2 separate regions of the Homo sapiens genome follow, and region 2 is linked to region 1. Evidence: fine-mapped expression QTL. A gene starts in region 1. The other region holds a variant in brackets. All regions are shown on one strand. Distances are from middle to middle.

Region 1 (8,944 bases):
CTGGAAGGGAAAGGAAATAAATCACAGGCTTAAAAACTTCGTGGCGGCTGGGTGCAGTGGCTCATGCCTGTAATCCCAACCCTTTGGGAGGCCGAGGCGGGCGGATCACCTGAGGTCAGGAGTTTGAGACCAGCCTGGCCAACATGGTGAAACCCTGTCTCTACTAAAAATACAAAAAGGTAGCCAGGCGTGATAGGGGCGCCTGTAATCCCAGCTACTCGGGAGGCTAAGGCAGAGAATTGCTTGAAGCCAGGAGGCAGAGGTTGCAGTGAGCTGAAATTGCGCCACTGCACTCCAGCCTGGGCGACAGAGCGAGAATCTCAAAAAACAAAAACAAACAAACAAAAAACAACTTTGTGGCTGCTGGAGTACTGAGAGCCATGCACCAGAATCACAGTGCCACCTGCTGGACATAGGTACCAAGCACACCCTTTTTAAAAGGACAGCTATTAACTCCTTAGTTAACTACTCAACACTTTGAAATTGATTGCCAGACCCATAAAGGCCTCAGGACTCCCTGGCCTAGTATTCCCACTTTGGGGTGGGTCAATGGGAATCTACTGATAACAAGGGAAGGGTTTAACAAGCCTCACTGATCCTATGGAAATAGTACATTCAAGAGTACAGCTGGTAATCCCAGCTATTCAGGAGGCTGAGGCAGGAGGATGGCTTGAGGTCAGGAGTTCAAGACCAGCCTTGGCAGGATAGTGAGAACTCAGCTCTTAAAAAATCTGTTTTAATTAGCTGGACATGGTGGCACGTGCCTGTAGTGCCAGCTACTCAGGAGGCTGAGACAGGAGGAGCCCAGGAGTTTGAGGATGCAGTGAGCTATGATTGTACCACTCCACTCCAGACTGGGCAACAGAGTCAGATCTCATCTCTAAAAAAAAAAAAAAAAAAAAAAAAGAGTATAGCTAGCCTGGCCCTAGAGGCATCTTGGTTTTACGTGAAGAAGTGGCAGCTCCCACTCTGGGAGAAACAACCTTCTCTGCTACCTGAAGCCGAGCTGCTGTTCAGTAGGGCCCTTGATTCACAGGGGTTCCTGTAAATGCTTAGGCCTGGCTCACCAATGATTAGGCTGAGTTAAAAGCTGATGTTGCCCACCAAGCAGCAGCAGGCACTTAGCCCCAATGATAACTCTGGATGGCTGATGGCAGTAAGGATTGAAGCATTTGGTATGCCACTTGGAAGACTAAATACTGAGAGATGAAAGCTGAGAAGTGTGGAAACACATCATGGCTGCCTGCCAATAGGACAGACTGGATCACTCACGTAGGTGCCCACACTAAGGGCAGGTACTCTCGTAAGACTGACTGGAATCAAACTGCTGATCCAGCCTGCACCACCAAGACTGCTGCCATAGCCACCTGGATTCATGCAACCGGTGTGGAAACATCTACCATCATGGGCTAGGCACAACGTAAGGGACTACATGTTTCTGAGGCAGAAGCCACCACTGCGTGCCAGACTTGTGACTCCTGCCAAAAGTTGGCCTGCTTGTCTTGCAGTAAAGGAAGCCACATTGCAAGGGGCACTGACCACACCTGCTCCTGGGAGATTGACATTAGGACTTTGTTCCCTTCTCTAGGCTCTCATCAGTACCTTGCTACTGCTGATACTTTTTCAGTTTACAGTGCTGATGTTGCTTTTCCAGTCCAATTATCTGACTCTGTGTATACCACTGTGGCCCTTGAAACTAAACTGCCAGGTTTTCTGCTTTCCAAACCATCTACAGTCTGACACTGGCATATCTTTTTGTCGCAATGGCCACCCAACAGTGTCAACAGTCAATAGCCAAGGTATTCGATGGACCTCCCACACTCCCTACCATCCACAGGCATGACATTGTCAAGTACTGAACAGTTCCCTCAAAGATCAACTCAAAAAGATTTTTGATTCTATGTTTTTAACCTCCTCCTGGTCTGCAAACCTTACTGAAGCAGTTTGGTCACCTAAGGCAGCCATTCTCAGAAATGGGTCATCTCCTTTTGCCTACCAACTGGGTAATGATCAGGAAAAAGGGGTGGAGGGTTATATAAACCTATTTTGAAAATGTGAGATTCTCCCCTGACCATTTCTGGCCATGATTCATCTTTCTTCCCCCTTACAGAAAGCCCAGATCAGCTGGGAGGAGGAGGCTATCTATGTAATTCAGACTTAATTCTAGTTCAGTCACTAGATTGTCTTGTTGGAATGGCCTGGTGCCAGAACATAAAGTTAATGATCATTTGGTTGGGTATAGTGCTTTTAAAGTCCCCCTACAGTGGCCCACATGTGTCAAGGTAGAAGACATAATGGGCCTCTGTCAATTTTCTAACAATTGGATATTAGAAGGCCTGCGTATTGGTAGGGGATAAATGGAGAAAAGGTGAAGTTATAGTTACTAGGGTAGGACACACTCATTATGTAGCAATGGAAGGAAAGAAACAATCCTGGCATCTGGGGAAGGAACACCACAGGACCCTGGAGATGTAAAGAGAAGGGAAACAATGTTCTCTTTGTCCCTATCCAGCACCAAAGCCTGGCAAACATTCACATGGTCCATCTAGGTCAAGCAGCAACTGTGGCTGGCAATCTGACCTGTGGCTGAGTTTGTCATCTCACTATGAAAACATAAAAACTTTATCTAGCAGGTCAGTATAAAAAAGAAAATAAAAAAAGAAAACAAAAACTCACATGGACACGGCCAGTCTTGAACTATTCCCACGTGCCTGATGACATCAACACCAACTCCCAAACGCAGACCTCCCTCATAGGTGTGCAAACACACAGATCAGCACCACCTTCTATCAATGCGGCTGATACAAATCACATGCTTCTCCTGAGATCCTAAGGGCCTTACTTAGGTTATGCCTTGTCTAGTGATTGAGGCTGCAACTGTTCAGTGACACTGCCCATGTGGTTTAAACCACTGTAATGGTAATCAAATTTGATGGTGATCCAAATAAAAATCTAACAAAAATCCTGGAGTGGCCTGCACTCCTCCAAGTAATATGTTAGTGTAAGGAAGAATGGGTCACAAAATATCTTTCCATTAATCATGGTAGTTAATTTTTTTTTTTTTTTTTTGAGACAGAGTCTGGCTTTGTCGCCTAGGCTGGAATGCAATGGTGCGATCTTAGCTCACTGCAACCTCTGCTTCCCAGGTTCAAGTGATTCTCCCACCTCAGCCTCCCGAGTAGCTGGGATTACAGGCACCCGCCATCATGCCCGGCTAAGTCTTGTATTTTCAGTTGAGACGGAGTTTCACCATGTTGGCCAGGTTGGTCTCGAACTCCTGACCTCAGGTGATCTGCCCGCCTCGGCCTCCCAAACTGCCGGGATTACAGGTGTGAGCCACTGCGCCCAGCCTGGTAATTACTTTCTTAAAAAAATTTTTACAAGGGTAGTGGGCTATTGTAATTACTGGTAATGACACCAAAGATCAGAGATCAATCTGAACCCCTGTGCACAGGTCACAGTGGTTAATAGACTGGTCTTAGACTGCAGCCCAGATGTCTGAAATAAGATTCCTCGGTGCCCCCAGGACTTATTCACAAGTGGCTGAATCCAGGACCCTGGAGGGCATGGTTGAGGTAAATACTGTAAGCTGGCCTTATTCTGCTGCTTAGAGTCCCATTGACAACAACCTTAATTAAATGCTGTAAGGGACAAACTGAAAAGATGTGAGTAGCCAGGGGAGTTGTATATTCATGTGAAAATCTGCTAGAAGCCAAGACCATAGAATCGAGGAGTGAGAGAGGCTGTCAGATTGCTCGTGCCTCTACACATCATTCTGGGTATACCAAGAATGCAAGGCCCTGACTGCATCTCACCTGGGCCATTTCTCATGGTTGTGTTTGCAGCAAGCAACTTTGAGAGAAGAGGCAGTGTCTCCCTCCAGGACAAAGAGGAGGTCTGCGTACTGCCTTCTATAAAACAGCAGATTTTCCAAGCTTGTCGTTCCTTCACTTGGATGCAACCCACTGCCTGTGCAGTCATCCATTTAAACCCATAGCGTCACCCTGTGGGACTTGGATGGCAAGGGAAACTGCTTCTAACATGCATCCTATTTCCTGTAATAAAGTCCTTTGTCTCTAACCCAGGAGTCTCATCTTCTGCCAGCAGTCACGACACAATAACAAGCTAATTTATTAATTTCTAAATAAAGCAACCCTGACAGTCTGTTTTCTTGCCTGCTTTTTGCTTAAAGAATTCCATTTCTGACACCCAGTATCTGGATAGTACAAGCTAAAACCTTTAAGAAAATAAATCTCTTCTCACAAGAAGAGTTCTGCCTCATAAAATCCTTTGGTCACCATACCTGAACACCCAAACTGTCCTTGCCCTATAGGATAAAGGTACACAGTTAGGTATTTTCTCCTCTGTTGATGCCTGAAAATCCTGCAGACATAGGAACTCAGGCCTTAGAAAATTCTGTACCCAAAAATTTGCAATTCTCTTTGGAAAGTTGAAAGCACCTTTAAAAGCCACAATTTGCAAGCCAGGTGATGCACTGTAGCATAACCTGGAAGACATGAGGGCTGCTTCCTCAGATACTAAGAATCCCACTGCCCCACCACCAGAGCAAAACGATCCCCCTCCCAGAGAATGCACCTCGCCAGAGGCCAACCCACCCGATACCTCAAGTTCCCCTCCACCGTGGCCCTCCTCCTATAGATCCCGCCCCCTCCGTACCCTCGGGCCAATCAGAGGGCGGCGTCCCGTCGCGGTTGCCATGGTGCCCGCCGAGTCCCTCCCATCACTCACCAGATGTGCGGCGGCTCGTCCAAGCGGTGGAAGCGGGTGGCGAAGGACAGCAGCGTCACCAAGGCCAGCAGGGCCCACCAGCCGACCGCCTCGAAGCGCCGTGAGCCCCAAGCAGGCCGTTTGGGGCTTCGCGCCACAGCCTCAGCGGCCACGTCCCGGCCTGCGGCCCTAGCAGCCTGGGGGCCACAGCGGCCCCTCCGGGGACGCAGCTCGGACTCTGCCAGGCCTCCGCCCGTGGCCGGCGGCATCTTCCCCCTCCTCTGGGTCGCCCTCCGGCCCGGAGGCACACTTTGTCTGACCAGCCGCCCCGCCAAGGAGTCACAAGAGGGCAGCTCGGGGTACCCCGGGAAATGCAACGCCCTTCACTGCAGCGGAGCGCGGGGCCCCGGGCTCGGGGCGGGGCGGGCAGCGTGGTCGCGGCCCGGGCCGCTAGGAGGCGGCAGGAGGCGCAGAGCATGTCGGGACCGGGAGGGCCGGCCGGCCCGGGGCGGGGGGGACTGGGCAGGAGGGGTCGGGCTCAGGGAACTGCAACTCCCAGCAGCCCCCAGGTACGGGGCGTGGCGGGAGAGCTGGGCGAGCCAGAGGCGACCGGAAGGATCTTTCTAGTCCAGCCCCTCGCTTTACCCGGACGAAAGACACGGGCCTGATTCGTCGAGTCTCACTGAGCCTTAGTCGTCGGCAGGTCCCAGGCGCGAAGTTTCTCGGCCTGGAGGAGGGGGTCGCGCGAAGTGCCAGATGCAGGCGGGGAAGGTCTGTGACGCGCACCCGGGTGGAGGGAAGCTGGTTAGACACCTGGAGACCCTGGGGGGCGGGGTCAGAAGTGAGCTGCACCGCCCGCCCAGGCCGACAACGACTCCCGGCATGCAGTGCTTTGCGCCGGGCACGCTCTGCGCCTGCGTGCTGCGCGCTGCCCGCTGGGGCTCGAAGTTCCGGGAGGGTTGGGCCAGAGGAGGCGGTCCTGGTAGGGAGTGCGTAGCAGGGTGGAGTCGCTGTCCGGTCGCGCTTCACTTCTGCTCCGCCCTCCCTGCTCCCCATAACAGACCCCTCCCTCCACTAAGGCTTCCAAACGTCGCCCCAAGCCTCCCAATTTCTCGCAGCCCTTCATGCTCTTCTCTTGGCCCTAGCAGGAGGTGACCTTCCAGTAATGTTTGTATTTTAAGAGTCCCCGGGCCGGGCGCGGTGGCTCACGCCTGTAATCCCAGCACTTTGGGAGGCCGAGGCGGGCGGATCACAAGGTCAGGAGATAGAGACCATCCTGGCTAACACGATGAAACCCTGTCTCTATTAAAATACAAAAAAATTAGCCAGGCGTGGTAGCGGGCGCCTGTAGTCCCAGCTACTCGGGAGGCTGAGGCAGGAGAATAGCGTGAACCCAGGAGGCGGAGCTTGCAGTGAGCCGAGATCGCGCCACTGCACTCCAGCCTGGGCGAAAGAGCGGGACTCCGGCTCAAAAAAAAAAAAAAAAGGCCCCGAGCGAGGAGAGGCAGTCATGACAATCACCTGGGGAGCTTCACGGCTTTCACATGTTCTTCCCGGGGCCTGCTCCAGAGCCACTCTGTTCATCTCTGGTGGAACGGGCTCGAGAATCTGCATGTTTTTATAAGCGGTCTAGATGGTTCTTAACGTGCCATGAAGTTTGAGAACCACTTTTGTGGCACTAAGGAAGGTGGCACGTTAGATGGGACTTTGCGTCACGTTAATAATGTATAGTCCTCCCTCTTCCAAATGGGATTTTAGGAGTCTTTTTCTCAAATCATGTGTAAGACATGGTTTAAAAATAAAATCTGCTAAAGTAATCAGAATGCATATTTGAATTGGAAACACAGGTCTTCTAGGAGTGCTGATGAGATGGATACTTGGGCTTAAAGTTTAGTTCTACAAGTGCAGAAAGGAACGGGGCATGGTTTACATAGTTATCACTGGTAAGAGAAGGCAGAAATTGCCTAAGAGATTTCAGGTTTCCTGCTTGTGGGTCGTGACGGAGGGCAGCAGCATTTACCATGCTTCTGGTCACTCGTAGTACAGATCCAAAGGTGTAATCCAAAGGCATTTAGCCATTAGGTAAGGCATTTCTTCAGGGATTCTAAGCTAATTAATGTCTGCCACACTCTAGTGGTCACCAGCAGTCCCTGTCCCTTGGCACCAGGAGTCCCTGTAGCCTGGCTAGGTAAGGAAAGGGAGTTGCATCTCCAAATAAGGAAGATCCAGTTGTGGCCACCCAATTCCTCCTCTTCGAAAGACACTTTCTGCCCATCACCTGCTTTCTGTGCCAGGACCATCTTTACTTTCTCCACAAAAGGTACCTTCAGGACAGGCTGGGACTGCTGGGCTTGGGAACCATCTTGGAAGGGCCTAGGTTCCCACTTACACCCTTGCCATCTAGCAGACTGAGTTGGTAGTACAGGGATGGCAATAGCAAGTTCAGAGAGCAGCTTAATATGCTAGGGGTGGCAGAGGGGAGAGGGAGCTTTGGTGAAATGTCTATAGTCAGAGGGGTAGTAAACAGGGCATCTGAGAAGTTCTTTCAAGTTCTCCCCTATCCATAGGGATACACATGTTTTGGTGGGAAGATTCATGAGTGCTAATCACTGGCGAGTCTTTCCTGGGTTCCACTTTGAAATGCTGGCTCCCGAAGAAGTACCAGAGAAATTAACTTTGAGCCCCTTAAACCTTGGAGTAGAGATCGCACACCCAGCTGCCCCCAAGGGCCCAAAGGTAACAAAAATGAGAAAAGTGGGCCAGATATGGGCCATGGCAGACCTGAGAGCGCATACGCTGGTTGATGGGGGCCATTAGTCTGTTCCCATCAATTGCTGCTATTTAGGAACCCAAATCTGTCTCCAGATTTTTTTAAAGAAAAAAAACAAACAGGTGTTGTATATAAAATATCATGATTTTTATTTTTATTTTATTTTATTATTTATTTATTTTGAGATGGAGTCTTGCTCTGTCCCCCAGGCTGGAGGGCAGTGACACGATCTTGGCTCACTGTATCCTCCGCCTCCTGGGTTCAAGCAATTCTCATACCTCAGCCTCCCAAGTAGGTGTGATTACAGATGCACACCACCACACCTGGCTAATTTTTGTTTAGCCATGTTGTTTCGCCATGTTGGCCAGGCTGGTCTCGAACTCCTGACCTCAGGTGATCTGCTGGCCTCAGCCTCCCAAAGTGCTGGGATTACAGGCATGACCCACCATACTAGAATGAAATGTCCTGATTTTTAAACATTGGCAACTACTTGAAACATTTTAAACTACTGTGTTGAGCAAACAGAAATTCTGAGGGCCAGATAGGGCCCCAGTGAGCTGCCAGCTTTTGACCTCACCTTTGGGGTGAGTGAGCATATCTGCCAGCTGTTTTTATGGGGACAGCCGAGAGCCCGGAGGACTGCTGGGAGGTGGGGTTGAAGGAGATATGTACCAAAGCGTCAAAAAATTAGAATTCCTTGTCTTGCTGCATTGCTAGAGGATGCCCTGCCATCATTTTAGGGCAACCTTTGTTTTACAAATGAGGGAGCCGAAGATTTAAAAAGGCAGAGGTTTGTCCAAGGTCATGCAGAGCTGGTTCCTGCACCAGGTCCAGACTCCAGATGCCAGCTCCCAGCCCGCTCCACCACTCAAAATACTGCATCAAAACCAGGCCACGCTCTGTTGGGGGGACACCAAACCTGGCCCCAGCAGGAGCGTAAGAAACTTCCTGCGAGTTGGAAAAAAATGCCTTTTTTTTTTTTTTTTTTTTGAGACGCAGTCTCGCTCTGGAGTGCAGTGGTGCGATCTCGGCCCACTGTGACCTCCACCTCTCAGGTTCAAGCTATTCTCTTACCTCAACCTCCTGAGTAGCTGAGATTACAGGCACCCACTACCACACCTGGCTGATTTTTTTTTGTATTTTCAGTAGAGACAGGGTTTCACCATGTTGGCCAGGCTGGTCTCAAACTCCTCACCTCAAATGATCCACCCACCTTGGCTCCCGAAGTGCTGGGATTACAGGCGTGAGCCACTGTGCCTGGCCAGAAATGCCCTTTCTGACCAGAGTCAAAGTTCCCCCAATGCCTGGGTAGCCCAGCTTCCCCATTGGCTCCTGAAATCCACCCCTTTAGGTTTCCTTTCCCTGCTCAGAAGCTGTGCCAGAGGGGACATTTCCTGGGAGGCTGAGGGTCACCACGATACCATGACAGAGTCTGGCAAGGTATGG
Region 2 (8,000 bases), 59 kb before region 1:
TGGGAGGATACAGGCAAGCACATGTCTTGAGAGAGGTGGCTGGAGCCCCGGCACAGAGACTGAACGCTGGGGTCCCTTCCTGGGACCAAGATGGAGAAGGTGTTCCTAAGGGAGGAGACAGAAGGAGGCTGCCGAAGGCTCTGTGGGGTCATCACCACTCTGCATCAGCTGCCCTTCCAAGGAGCTTCTGCTGCTGCTCCTCCTCCCAGCCCCGGCCCATTCCTCCCCTGCAGTCTGAGGAGGCAAAGGTATGTGCACGGGGCACATTGACAGGACACGGAGGACCACCTCATCACAGGGTTCCCTGCATGGGGATCTGTAAAGAGAAAGTTTCTGCACCCACCAGAGCAAGAGCCAACTGAAAGCGTAGACCTGAGAAGAGGTAACTCAGCCCCTTCCTGCTCCTCTGCCCTCATCAGATGTCCCCAGGAGCAGCAGGGCAGAGGCCCTTCTTTCTATTCTTACAAGGGTAGCTAGAGCGTGATCACTCAGGGCTCATCAAATGAGACTCGTGTGCATTTTTCAGAAGGAAACCTTGGTTAGTCCTTGCTGGGTAACACAAAGTGGGGTGAGACGACAGAAGCCGAATTCATGGAAGGGGGGTCTTCTCCCCAAAACTCTGTGTGGTGGGAAACCAGCTATACCTCCCCAAGCCCCAGGGCCTAAAGAGAAGACCCCCGAAGCCAAAGATGTGGCCACTTAAAAGCGTCTCCTGCCTCCTACCCAACTGAGTGCCTGGGCCCCCAGCTTGGCCAAGATGGGCAGTACGTTAGGGTAAGAACCCCATGCTTCAAACTTAAGGACTGACCATCACCTGCGTCCCAAGTAGGACCCTTCCTCCCTTCTCGGGGCTGCCCCTGCACCCTGCCTTGAAGACCACCCAAGCGGCCTCCAGTGTGGGCCTGGTCCAGACATTGCAGATGCTTCAACCGTGATGTCGCCCCAGGCCTGCCAGGGGTGTGGTGGAGGGGAAGGCCACGTGCTCCAGGGAGAAGCCCTTTCTGGAGAAGCAAGGCTGTCCTCCCAGGGCTGCCACTACCAGAGACCTGGGGGAGCTGAATTCCGAACAGTGATGGTGACACTCAGCACCTTTGCCACAGCCGGGGGGAACCGGCTTCTGCCTCTGGGATGGGCTCTCATCAGGACCACCGTGCAGCCCAGCCAGGGAGGACATGAGAAGGGCCAGTGGGGGCCTCAATGAACCAGAACAAGCCAAGCTGAATGGGGTCTGTGTGCTCCAGGGCCCTCTTCAGCCCCCTCCCCCAAAGGTCTGGGTCCCTGCCACCAACCTACTGAAGGCCGGCCCCCGGCTCACCTCACCTGAGCACCTGCACCAGGCCCCAGGCACATGGCTGCCCTGAACTCAGATCACCTAGACCTTGTCCCTGCCCCACCTTTGCCCCATCCTAGCCCCAGAAGCTCCAAGCTTCACCGCAGGTGAGAAATTGTGCTCAATGGGCAGAAACTGCTATACCCCCAGGGCATGGCCCACATTTTGGCATGAGGGTGTCTTTCCAGAGAGCTTGGGTTGGCTGGAGAGAGGCTGTCTTTCCCATTCCTTGTCCAGCTAGGAATAAAGGGGAAATGGTCCTAGCCTGGCCCCTACACACCCAGGTCCCACAGGCCCCCTCCCCACTGGAATTTCACCAACCAACAAGGGGAAAGTACGCTGTTACAGCATAGCGGTCAGGCCCAGCAGGAGCTTGGCACATGATGGGGAGGTGGCCAGCTCCAGGCCCTGCCCGACCCCATCATGTGTATTTGGTGTATGGGGTGTGGGGGGTCACACCAGAAGCTGGCCTGGGGTCTCTTCTTTGCTGGACACAGCTCCCTGGCCCCTGCCCCCAGCCCCTGCAGCCCCTGCCGGACTGTGGAAGCCACATATGGGAAAAGTCCTGGCAGACAATGTGGCGGGATGACTGGGGGCTTCTCCCTCTGAACCTGGGTCCAGTGTAGCCTGGCTCTGAGAGAAGGTGGTGAGCATGTGGAGAAGGTTCCATAGTCCACTCTTAGGGGAACCAGCAAAGCCTCATGGCAGTTGGCTCCATCTGGACCTCCCATGGTCACTACAGGATGGTGGAGCAGGGGGCATCTTTTAGCCTCCCCCCGCCACCACATCCAGGCCCTCTCAGGCACCTCCTGCCTCAGCCCACACCTGCCTCACCCATTGCCCCCCTCCCCCCACCTACTGCCATCCCACTCCTCTGCCAGCCACTTCCCAGCCGCCCCACCCCACTCCATCCACCAAATCACCTCCTGACTTAATCCTTTCTGGAAGGAGCTGCCGCCCAGGAACCGGTATTGCCTAGAGCCTCCAGGAGGGGCCCTCCTCAGGCCTCCAGTGGCCCCATGCCCACCTGCCTGACCCTCCACTGCCCCTGGAAGCAAAGTGCCTATCAGCAGCGTTGCGTCCTCTGGGGCCCCCGGTCGGGGGGGAGGGGGTGTGGGCTAACCTTGGCCACCACCACAAAAGGAATGTGCCAGAATGCTGAACCTTCTTGTTAATGCTATGACCGTGCCTTGAATAAACAAGTCCTCCCAACCTCTCCTGGCCCCTGCCTCTCTGCCTGTGCATCTGGGCCAGCCTGGCCTTGCTCCGCTGTGCAGTGGAGAGAACTTTCTGGTCCTTGAGCTACCCAGGAAGCCAGCAGGGCAGCCCCGAGGAGCAGCAGAAGTCTCTGGTGAGTGCTGAGCCCCATGAGCAGGCCACTGGGCTAGGCTAGTGGCCAGACTTCAAAACACACAGATTTCAGGTGAGGCCCCAGGAAGAGCGGCAGACAGGGCTCAGGTCTGCAAGAGGATGAGGGTGGGGGACTTGGGGGATGGGGGAGGTGGAGGAGAGGTTGGGTGGAGGAGAGGTTGGCACGAGGGAAGTGTGTGGGGCAGCCAGGTGGGATAAGAAACACCCGTTAGCAAAGGCTGTTATAACTGTGGCAAGGAGACAACAGTTCCCTGCCCTGGCGGACACATCTCAGGGTCAGGAGACTGGTTCTGTCCCTTCCTCCAGCAGCTGCATGACCCAGGCTGGTCACCTCATCCAGACAGTAGGGCTGGGAGGACATGAAGCGGACTGTTCTGCTTCGTGACTGAGCAGAGCAGATTTGAGGGCAGAAGATGGGAATCTTGTGGGTGTGTTGAGTAGGGGGAGACTTCCTCCCGCAGTGCTCCCTATGGGGACAGAGGATGACAGTCTCAGGGTGGCTGCCTAAGGACTCTTTCCTGC[A/G]TCATCCTCGCTGGGTCCTCTCCGCAAACTTCTACGGTCCATCAGTGGCCACTGACTCAAAGTCTACCAAGGTGTGGGCCTGGGCGTGGGATCAAGACCCGTCCACTTGTCCCCTCTCCCCCTCAAAACAATTATTTTCCAAGTCAAGTCAGCCCTTAAAATCCACAAGGGCTGCTTCGCAGGAGAGAAGCCATGAAGACTCCCTGACTGGACGGGACGGGGCTGCGCCCTGCTGCTGCCTCTCATGGTCCCCTCCCAGGGGCCGGCAGCTCCAGGGTCCCCAGATGGCAGGCCTGGGACACTCTGTGGTTCAGCAGACCTTTCGAGGGCCTTTTATCAGGCAGAGACTGAGAAAGAGACAGAAAAACAAGCCGAAGAGGGAGGGCGGTCTCCCCAAGGATGGAATGTCCTCCAGGGAGGTTAGTGTTGGTCAATCCTCTCTCCACTCAGCAGGCCAGGATGGACCGGAGGCCTGAAGGTGGATTTACCTGGGCTGGGGACGGGACTGGGGCAGGGCAAGAGGGAGCCCCAGGAGGCTGGCTCCACTGGGCTGTGCCCAAGAAAGGATTGGAGCACGTGACCGAGTGCTGCGCAGGGAGGAAGCAGCGGGGCCTGAGAGTGCCCCATGCCTCTGCCCAGAAACCAAGCCTGGGGCTGCACGGGGCCCCGCCAGGGAAGCCTGAGGCAGCTCACTTCTGTCCTGAGGAACCTCCTTGCTGGCCAGATTCCAGGTTTCTAGGTCTGCTCTGTGGAAGGCCTTGCAGAGGCGAGGAGAGCCTGGTCTATGGGGAGACAGGTTCCCAGGCTTTCTGAACAGAGGCTGCTTTCAGAACATCTGACAGTCCCTCGGCCTGGACAAGTGGCAGCCCGGCAGCTCTCAGCCTCAATTCCCAAGGTTCTCCAGCCCAGCTGCAAAGGAGAGTCACTCTCAATGTCCAGGCCCCATCCCTGAAAAACCAAAATTTCTCAGGTGGGGCCCAGTACCCTGTATTTTACAAAAGTCCCCCAGGTGATTCCAGTGTGCAGGGAGGGGTGAGTGGATAAGGAAAACAGTCCCAACCTCAGGCACTGCATGCCCTGGGTGGCCTCAGCATCTCACCATCGCCAGCTTAGAAATGACAACTCCCTAGCTCAGGCACGCTTCTGCCATCTTTATCTTCTTTTGCAATAAGTATGAGTACCATGTGGGCCCGAGGGCCACACACCAGGTGTCAGGGGCACTTCTGGCTACCTTGTCATCTTCAGCAAGGGTTCAAAGACTGTCCCTCTTCCCTCCCCTCCAAACACAGAGCCCAGTGGCTTCCATGACCGCCTGCCCATTTCCGTGCAACAGAACGTGACAAGTGCAGTAAACAAATAGGCCTACATAATGGGGTGTCAGGGAGAGACAAAGCCGGATAGGGGCAAGGGGTGCCTGTAGGTGGGGAGAGGATGCTTTGCACTAGAGAGGCCAGCACAAGCTCTGTGGAGGTGAGACATGAGAGCCAGCAAAGGGTCTGTGGGCACACATGCGGAGCCCAAAGAACCAGGCAGAGTGAGCGAGGGGAGGAGAGGGTGGGGCGAGGTCTGAGTGGGCAACAGGCTGTGCAGGCCACGCTGGGACTCCAAGTTTCACTCATCATCTGAGAAACTATGGGAGGATTCTGGGTAGGAGTATGATCCCCTTATGTGTTTGTTTTCCAGGTTTTTTTGTTGTGGTGGTGGTGGTAAAGTACACATAATCATATTCACCATCTTAACCATTTATGGGTTTTTTGTTTGTTTGTTTTGTTGTTGTTGTTGAGACAGAGTCTTGCTCTGTCACCCAGGCTGGAGTGCAATGGCGTGATCTGGGTGCAGTGCAACCTCCGCCTCCCAGGTTCAAGCAATTCTCCTTCTTCAGCCTCCCAAGTAGCTGGGATTACAGGCATATGCCATCATCATTTTTGTATTTTTTAGTAGAGATGGGGTTTCACCATATTGGCCAGGCTGGTCTCGAACTCCTGACCTCAAGCAATCCGCCCACCTTGGCCTCCCAAAGTGCTAGGATTATAGGCGTGAGCCACCGCGCCCGGCCACCATCTTAACCATTTGTAACTGTCCTGTTCAGTGGCATGAAATACATTCGTAATGTGCAACCATTACCACCAGCCATCCTCCACAACTCTTTATCTTGCAAAACTGAGACTGTATACCCATAATCAATAATTCCTCATTCCCTCCTCCCCTTAGCCCCTGGCCACCACCCATGTAACTCTTATGTGCTGAAATGGTCACTGTCACCAGGGTAGGACAAGTAGAAGCAGAAAGCCCAGCTGGGGCCAGGTGTGGTGGTGCACACCTGTAATCCCAGCATTTTGGGAGGCTGAGGTGAGAGGATTACTTGGGGCCAGGGGCTTGAGACCAGCCTGGGCAACAAAGCAAGACCCTATCTCCACAAAAATTTTAAAAATTAGCTGGGCATGGTGGCATGCACCTGGAGTCCCAACTACTCGGGAGACTGAGGCAGGAGGATTCCTTGAACCCAGGATTTCAAGGCTGCAGTGAGCAATGATCATGCCACCACACTTCAGCCTGGGCAACAGAGTGAGATCCTGTCTAAAAAAAAAAAAAAAAAAAGCCCAGTTGGGACTGTGTCAGAGGCATTCAGGAGAGAGAATATGGTAGCTTGCACCAGGATAGGGAGTGAATAAAGAAGCAGTTAAACTTGGAACAGAGGTTGAGGATTCATGGATGATTAGATGTGGGGTCTGAGGGAAAGCAGGAACGCAAGGATGACTCCCAGATCTTCAGCATGAACAACTCAGCACACTCTGGTTTGAGGTGGAGAAAGCTGGGAAGAAAAAGGCCAAGGGAAACCCCAAGAGTTCCATCTTGAGTGTGTTCTGGTTAAGATGCTATGTGGGGATGTCAAGAAGGTGGCTAGATACAGGAGTCGGGCTGGAGATGTCATCAGCACCTGGGTGGTGATTAAAGCATGGGACTGGCTGAGACTTTGATGGGAGCAGGTGCAGGTGAGGAGGTCTGAGGGCTGAGCCAGCACAAAGAGATGGGAGGAGAACCGGCAAGGAAAACCAGGAGGGACTCAAAAAGGAAGGAGGGTGTCCCCAGCTCTAACCACGCTTGGCAGTAAATGCGGTGCATAGAGGAATAAGTCAAAAGATGCCACGAAGCAGCTTCAGCCAAGTGGAGAATGCTGAACAGGCCATTAGACAAATGACCCACTTCTCCCACACAGCAATGGTGAGGGGAAATGGCAAGAGGGGCCAGGCCAAAGTGAAAGAGTGAAGAGACACAATCAAATGCGAAGTGTGCATCCTGAGTTGAACAAACCAACTGCAGAGAGACGTCTGGGAAATCTACACGTGGATGAATGTGGGCCATCAGGGAATTTGAATTAGGTGATGATGAGAAGATACCGTTCATCTTGTTAGATGTATTGATGGCGTGGCTTCATATGTGAAATAAAGTGCCAGCTAGAAATTCATATGGAAGAATTTACAGGTAAAAGAACATGAAGTCTTGGATTTGCTTTAAAACTCTCCAGCAAAAACAAAGAAACAAAAACAAAAATGGGAGGGGGGTGTGGTTGGGGGAAGAGGTGCATGGAGATTCCCTCATCTCTTGATTCTTGTGTATGTTAACATTTTTCCATAATAAAAAGTGTAAAAATAAAGGCATGACCAACTTTTTCGAGTGCTGCTGAGCAGGAGAGGAAGATAAGGACTAAGATGTGACTCTACATCTGGCAAGATGAGGGTGGTTGGTGACCTTGACTGTAGTAGATTGAAAGTGGGGGCAAAGCCTGGTTGAAGCAGGTTCCCATCCTCCCATAAGAAGTGAGGAGATGAAAACAGCAAGGAAAGACTGCTCTTTCGAAGGGTTTTGCTATCAAAGGAAGAAAAGAACCAAAGGGGTAGCTGGAGAGGAAAGGAAGTGAGGGGTTGTTCTTTGTATAGGAGGGGAGATGTGGGCTGATAGAGGAGGGATGCAGGAGAGAGGGCTGAGCCCTTGAGCAGAGGAGGAGGTAAGGGATACTCTCCCCTGATACAGACGTGCGTGCATACACGCACACGTGCACACACACATGCATACACACGCGTGCACACACACCAGTGCATGCCCATGCACACACGCACTCACACCTAAGTAGAAGAGTGGCTTTCAAAAAAGGTGAAAGCATCCATGCTTAGGATGACTCAGACACAGGTCAGAGGAGGGCATTAGACCTTTCCAAAGCCAGGCCACCTAGAGAGCTGTGGGCCAGACATGGACACCTGAGCCTGACCCATTAATAGGTCACACAGCAGATGAGGCCCTCACTCACTGCAGCCTGTAGGGCTCCAGAAAATGCTCTGGGCACCACAGCGGCCAAGGCGTTCCTAACATGCTGCAGACCCAGTGCCTGCAGTCACATAGCCTGGCAGGCCTGGCATCTGAGCTTAAAGAAAATGAGGCCCCATCTGGGAGCTGGCAAGGCCCCGTGGGCATCTGCTACATTCAGTCTTGGCTGAGAAACTGGAAGCCCAGGGCGAGGACAGCCAGCCCAGGCACAGGCCTTGCAGCCATGCGTGGGCTTCGGGCCCGCCGCCGAGGCTGGAACACATGGAGGTAACCCCAAACCTGCTCCAATCATGCCTACTCAACACAGCTTCTCTTCCCCACGTCCCTGGCTGGCTTTCTAGCCCACAGCCTGTGGGGTCCCAAGCCCCCGACCAATGACCTGCTTCAGACCATGGATCAGTGCGGGTATGGGTTTAACTAACCCCAAAATGTGTAATGGCATAAACACAAGAGA

What was found. PIP is the estimated chance that this variant, and not a neighbour inherited with it, causes the effect.
Region 2: its variant is fine-mapped to the expression of GSTZ1 in nasal epithelium (TOPMed, PIP 0.90).

The regions. Positions count from the first base shown.
Region 1 is chr14:77,315,685-77,324,628 of GRCh38, forward strand. GSTZ1 (glutathione S-transferase zeta 1) reads left to right here and starts at 5,352. Exons shown (of 9, transcript NM_145870.3): 1 at 5,352-5,499. The coding sequence starts at 5,485. POMT2 (protein O-mannosyltransferase 2) reads right to left here and starts at 5,199. Exons shown (of 21, transcript NM_013382.7): 1 at 4,750-5,199. The coding sequence starts at 4,997. RefSeq lists silencers at 4,686-4,735, 4,966-5,345 and enhancers at 5,426-5,695, 5,573-6,434, 5,966-6,015.
Region 2 is chr14:77,256,950-77,264,949 of GRCh38, forward strand. TMEM63C (transmembrane protein 63C) reads left to right here. Exons shown (of 24, transcript NM_020431.4): 24 at 1-2,546. It overlaps LOC124903351 (a long non-coding RNA gene), which reads left to right and starts at 2,870. Exons shown (of 2, transcript XR_007064276.1): 1 at 2,870-4,193; 2 at 6,441-6,878. The variant A/G (reference allele first, on the strand shown) is at 3,224.